Regions from separate parts of the Homo sapiens genome. Here region 1 is reported to be linked to region 2. The links are microRNA targets in miRTarBase. Many come from high-throughput screens and were not tested one by one. Region 2 holds a microRNA gene; the other region holds the end of a gene's coding sequence.
What was found. The annotated mature microRNA hsa-miR-6736-3p reads UCAGCUCCUCUCUACCCACAG and lies in region 2 at 960-980, opposite strand. An mRNA with a match to its seed (bases 2 to 7 or 8) in the 3' UTR can be bound and repressed. Matches are read on the target gene's strand: a 7mer-m8 pairs with bases 2 to 8, a 7mer-A1 pairs with bases 2 to 7 and ends in A, and an 8mer does both.

Region 1: miRTarBase lists TENM4 as a target of hsa-miR-6736-3p. Seed matches in the 3' UTR shown: 7mer-A1 at 1,325-1,331.

Annotation. Positions count from the first base shown.
Region 1 is chr11:78,655,391-78,658,518 of GRCh38, forward strand. TENM4 (teneurin transmembrane protein 4) reads right to left here. Exons shown (of 34, transcript NM_001098816.3): 34 at 1-3,128. The coding sequence ends at 2,668. Among named protein-coding and RNA genes, the nearest start is that of NARS2, 82 kb to the left of the region's middle.
Region 2 is chr1:145,849,628-145,852,751 of GRCh38, forward strand. MIR6736 (microRNA 6736) reads right to left here and starts at 1,018; the gene lies at 960-1,018. PIAS3 (protein inhibitor of activated STAT 3) reads right to left here. Exons shown (of 14, transcript NM_006099.3): 10 at 1,393-1,526; 11 at 1,144-1,312; 12 at 826-959; 13 at 605-642; 14 at 1-85. RefSeq lists an enhancer at 54-1,253.

The DNA.
Region 1 (3,128 bases), not on the chromosome of region 2:
AACACTCAGTCCAGGCGCAGTGGCTCACACCTGTAACCCCAGCACTTCAGGAGGCCAAGGTGGATCGCCTGAGGCCAGGAGTTTGAGAACAGCCTGGGCAACATAGTGAGACCCCATCTCTATGAAAAAAAAAAGAAAGAAAGAAAAAAATAAATGAAACACCCAATAATTCTGTTTTTGATCCCTAAAAGTCCACCCTATTCCTTTGGGGAGGGGGCTGTGGAGGAGGGACAGGGCGTGGGGGAAGCGTAGGGAGCTGGTTCCTGTGGACCGCATGCCGTTCCTGACCTCTGAGCAGACATCCCCAGCAGGTCTTCACTGATGTCAGGCAGCCAGGATGGGACTGATCAACTGGGCAGGAGCACTTTGCCCAAGGGCCCTTGGTATGAAGAGTACATTTTGAGAGGCGTAAGTCCCTTCTGGAGGACAAAACTTGTGTTCTTCAGGCCAAACTGTTTTCCATCTCATCCAAGAATGATCCTGCCAGATGGGAGCCCCCATCTCCAGCTCATGCCTCCCACAGCAGGCCTGCAGAGCACTGTATCTGACTCAGTAGAGCTCTGGATCCAGGGGCAATGGGCAACCAGTGGACAAGCAGGCCAAAGCGCACTGCTGCAGCAGGGTGGCTTTTTTTTTGGAAACAGGAAGAGCACTTAGCGAAACACATCCTCTAATCCCAGTGGGATGACGTTAAGGCGAAATCTCCTCTCCCCAAGAAGTTTTGGTTGCCTCCCTCTGCCAGGCAGAACCCAGACTACATGCTGCTCCGATCCTCATGCAGTCAGACCTTCTCAGTTTCATTAACTTGTGTAATATTCTGAAGACTATGTGAGTAAGGCTATAGAGGTGCCATGAGCTTATCAGTCCAACAAGGTTTCCACGGGGAATAGCTCAGACTCAGAATTCATTTTCCACACTTAATGTAAATGTAACCCATAAAAGTTCCATTTTCTAAGAAGCCCAGCTTAAAAGGAAGCATTTGGCTTCCCCTCCCATCTCCCAGAGCCTCCTGTGAGTGGTAATGACAATGGTAATTAGGCGGATGAACCAGGAATGGAATCCTTGAACAAGGGGCTCCCAGCTCTGGCTGTGACTCCCCCTGCCCTCACTGCTCCCCCAGCCTGCTGGCTGCTGCCTCAGCTTGGGCGTGCTCTTCAGGTGTGGGCTGTCCCTGCTTCTGAGAGGGCTCAGGCCTCTCCCTGACGACACAGGCACAGTTCTTCACAGGAATCATGCCAGCCTGGCCTCCCAGATCTACGGGCACCCACCTTGGGAACTGCCCTGCTCCTGGTGGGGTTGTATGATATGGGCAGGCCACACCACATCAGCTCTTCCCTCCTTTCTTCCTGTCACTAAAAAACACATTGGGTGGGCTTCTCTAGAGGGGAAGCTGTTTCAGAACTTCAGGAATTTCCTGGAAGCCCAGCCTGCCCCAGTCCAGCTCTGCGATCAGCTGGTACATGGAGGCAGATGGGACTTTGGGAACTGGTTAGAAGGATGCTTAGCTTATGCCTTCCTCTCTTTGGCTGGCTTTTTTTGTTAAGCATTTTTCCAGAATCAAAGGCCACCAAGCACCTCCCTCCACATTCCTACGTCTCAGTGGTGGCGGCTGAGTGGTGGAGGGAAGATACTCAAAGTCATAGAGAGAGGGCTTTGCCTCGGAAGGCAGGCTGGTGCCCTCGCCACCACTGCCATGCCTTTGCCATGGGTGGCCTTCTGTTCTGTGGACATGGTGCCCACATTGAAGGCTTGCTGTGCAGTGCTCGTTCTCACATCTGGCTTTGGGAGAAAGGAGGAGATGAACAGGAACATCATGGAGGACCAACCAATCACAGGCATCCTGGGTGCTTTCCCTCCCGGGAGGATGGGACTCTGAGCCCAGGATGTTATGTCACTGGTCTGGGGGAAAGGACCTGGGAGACACTTTCTCTATCCCAGCATGGGGGTGGCACCGACAACTACACAGGATTTGCAAAAGTGGTAGGGGGTTTCATTCAGCATCAAAATAGAAAGCTTGAACAGGAGTTTGGGGCAGCTTAAAAAAGGTGCTGAACAACACCATGAAATTCCCTGGAGCAAGATGAAGCCATCTATGATCCTCTGGAGGCAGAGAACAAGGTGAGAAGAAATCCACCACTCTTCTGCAGGAGCCCTGCCAAGGAGCCTCAGGTCCTACAGACCCTCCTCCCAGGCCCCCTTGGAAGGGGTGTTGTACTGGCCCATCACTCCCTTTACTCCTGCCCGACCCCAGTCGAAGAAGAAAGGGTTGCACATGAGACAAGTTAGCACAGACATTCATGTCCCACATCACACTGGGTACCTAGGGACAGACGAGGACACACCCCAGGAGATGCATCTCAGAGAGGAGATACATACCCCAAACGACAAGGGAAAAATCCTCAAGGAAAAAGGGAACAAAAGACAATAAAGTTTTCATTGTGATCACACTACAGAAAAAAATACCTTCTGTTCTTTGCAAAAAATGTGCGAAGGCCAAATCTGTGTTTTTCTTTTCTAAAAAAAAGGATGTTGCATGAGTTACAATGCAACCAGTATCTTTTTGTTTCTGCACTTGTTAAAAAATCATTTTTTTAAAAGTACAACACAGTCAGGTATGCGGCCACAAAAGAGTAGCTGTCTTTGGCAAGAAGTCCTTGGTCCTCTCTGTCACCTCCGGCCCATCTCGCTCTGTCTCATGAAGTGGATGTTGTTGGCGCTGTCTGACAGTTCTGGGTACTGCTCGACAGAGATCACGAAAAAGCCGTCGTAGCCTTGCACCCGCCCTGTGCTCAGCACCTGCTGCTTCTCCCCCTCTGTCCAGGCCCGCAGGCCTTCCTCCCCTTCCCGCAGTCTCTGCTGCTCGCGGGCCCACGCTTGGCGCACGGCTCTCTGCCGGGCCAGCTCCAGGACCCGTGCCTTCTCCTCATCCAACGTTGTCCCGTAGCGTGTGTTCAAGCACAGTGCCCCGTACTGGAGCTGGATGTCTGTGTAGCGTCTAGTCCTGCCATTAAGTACTGTGTTGATCTGGGACACAGTGACGTTGACCCCATTCTCCAGGGTTCGCCGCCCCCCACTGAGGCCCAGGATGGCCAGGTCACCTTCTGAAGGTCCTGGTTTCACAAAGTAAT
Region 2 (3,124 bases):
AGTGAGAAGGGGTCCCTCGGTACTGGAAGAAGTGGCCAAGGGCATCCTGTTCATCTAGTGAGGTGATGACAGAGGGGCCATAGTGCTAGGAAGAATCAAGGGCATAGTTTAAGATCTCAATCCCGACTTCCCCACCTCCCAGTCACTCATCTCAGAAATGCCGTATGAGAGCAATCAACCCCTGTGGATCCGAAGGTATTCTCTTGAGAAGCAGGAGAGCCTCTCCCTCTTTCCCCTACTTCCCTACACCCTTCCCCTTTCCCTGCCTTGAGAGAGCTCCTCCAACTTGTTAGGTTCTTGGCTTTGTGGGCGTCTGAAATGTGTGGAATGTCCGGTTAGAGCAGGCATGGTGCTCTAAGTGCACACGGGGGTAGGGGTGAGTAGGCCAGGGCAGAAAAGTAACAGGGGATCTAGGAAGGAGGCCTAAGTAGGAATCTCAGGAACTACCAGTGGGGCTGAGGAGATAATAAGATACCTACACCCCACTGCCCTCACGGGAAAGCAGATTTACATCCCCAGAGATCATAAGAGAGGGAGGGGCCCCATCAGTGTCTAGAAAGGAAGCTTCAGAGATCTGAGACCTTCTGAAGAAAGAACCACTTACCTGACTCTCTGTCTGAAGAAATGAAAATAAATCTAAACCTGGCAGGAAAAGAAAAATCAAAATTAACCTCCTATCTGACCCCTTTACCACCAAAAGACAAAGCACTGTGGACTGTGGCCCCTTGCAGGAGAAGCAGGAGGCTTTGAGAAGGAACAGGGGTTCTGATGTAGCTCTGGGGAGGGTGTGGCAGTGCAGGGTCCATCTTATGACCCATGTCATACCTTGGATGTCGGCTCCCAGTGGGAAGGCAGGTGGGTACTCATGTAGTGGGAGACTGGACAGGAAATCCCCACCCAACGTGCCCATAGCAGGGCTCCTTAGCACCGAGGATGGCTGGTGGCCAGATGTCAGGACTCTGTGGGTAGAGAGGAGCTGAGGCAGCCAGCAAACCACAGATGCCCTCACCCAGCTCAGGTCCCCAGGTTCCCTCTCTGTCCCCTCCACATTTCTCTTGCCCCAGGCTTTGTCCAATGATCAGAAAGCAATCCTGACTTCTTCCCCTGTCCGTTTTGCTGTAGACTCAGCCTATTTTCTCATACCCTTTGCTTCCAGGTAGGGCCGGGATGGCAGCTGAGGTGACAGAACAGTGCTTCTTGGTAGGGGGCAGATCCTCCTCATCTGATGAGCTTTCTATTGTCAAGTCAATAACTTCGACCTTCTTCTTATTCTCTGATGGATCTCCCCCCTGGACTGGGCTGTACTGGAGGCCTGTGGGTATTAAGAAGACTACGTCTCAGAGAAGAGGCCATCCAAGATTTAGCTTAGCTGGGGAACAGGGGGTCACTCACCATCCAGCCCATACCCTGGCGGGGGGCAAACCTCAGATGCCTCCTTCTTGGGTTTCATTGGGCACCAGGATCCATCTTCCATGAATTGGATCTCATCACAATCTGAACAGGAACTAAGAATCTCCATAAATAAACTGGGGGAAGAGAGAGATGAAAATTCACGGGGCTGGGAGATGAGCAGAACAGTAGCCAGAGTTCTGTAACTCACCTTCCTGTATCTCAGTTTCCTCATCTGTAAAATAAGAACATTATCCATCCTACTGGACCGCTCTGAGTTGTTGGAATCAAATAACACAAGGTATGTAAAAGAGCTTTGCAAAGTAAGTAATAGGTTTTAAAATAAATACAATCTGAGGCTGGGTGCAGTGGCTCACGCCTTTAATCCCAGCACTTTGGGAGGTACAGGCAGGTGAATCACTTGAGGCTGGGAGTTCAAGACCAGCCTGGCCAACATGGTGAAACCTCATCTCTACTAAAAATACAAAAATTAGCCAGGTGTGGTGGCACATGCCTATAATCCCAGCTACTTAGGAGGCTGAGGCACGAGAATCGCTTGAACCCAGGAGGCAGAGGTTGCAGTGAGCCTAGACCACACCACTGTTCTCCACCCTGGGAAACAGAGCAAGGCTCTGCCTCAAAAAAAAAAAAAAAAAAAAAGCCGGCGTGGTGGCTCACGCCTATAATCACACTTTCAGAGACTGAGGTGGGTGGATCACCTGAGGTCAGGAGTTCGAGACCAGCCTGGCCAACATGGTGAAACCCCATCTCTACCAAAAATACAAAATTAGCCGGATGTGGCGGCACATGCCTGTAATCCCAGCTACTCAGGAGGCTGAGGCAGGAGAATTGCTTGAACCCAGGAGGCAGAGGTTGCATGAGCTGAGATCACGAGACTGTGCCATACCACTCCAGCCTGGGTGACAGAGTGAAACACCGTCTCAAAAAAAAAAAAAAAAAAAATCTGAGCACTTACGTGTAGTATAAGGAACAAAAGGAGCAGAGACACAGAAGTCCATAAACCATCTCCAAAAGGCACTGGGTCTTTGGCTTTCTAAACACTTGTGTAAAAATAAATAAATAAAGGCACTAGGGGCCAGGCATGGTAGCTCATGCCTGCAATCCTAGCACTTTGGGAGGCCAAGGTGGGAGGATCACTTGAGGCCAGGAGGTCGAGGCTGCAGTGAGCTATGATTGTGCTACTATACTCCAGTCTGGGCAACAGAACGAGACCCTGTCTCAAAAACAAACAAACAAACAAAAAGTGGGGGAGCACTGGGAACAGGAACCATAATGTAGATTCCAAAAAGAGGTTAAGACTAGCAAGATCAAAAGATTAGAACATCCAGGCCCTGAAAAGAACCTTATTGCAATGCTCAGTGGGAAGTCAGGTAGTTGTTATAGGTGATATATTATGACAGTTCAGTACACTGGCTCTGCCACTTAACAATATAACCTTGAGCAAGGCTCAATCTCTCTCGGCCTCAGTTTCCTCATGTGTAATGATACTACCTATCTCATAGGGTTTTTTTTTTTCTTTTTTTTTTTCTGGGTGAGTGTCACTAGCCAATCATAGGATTATTTCTTTTTTTGAGACAGGGTCTCAATCTGTTGCCCAGGCTGGGGTGCAGTAATGCAATCATAGCTCACTGCAGCCTCAAACTCCTGGGTTCAAGCCATCCTCCTGCCTCAGCCTCCTGAGCAGCTAAGACTACAGTCATGAGCTATTATAACA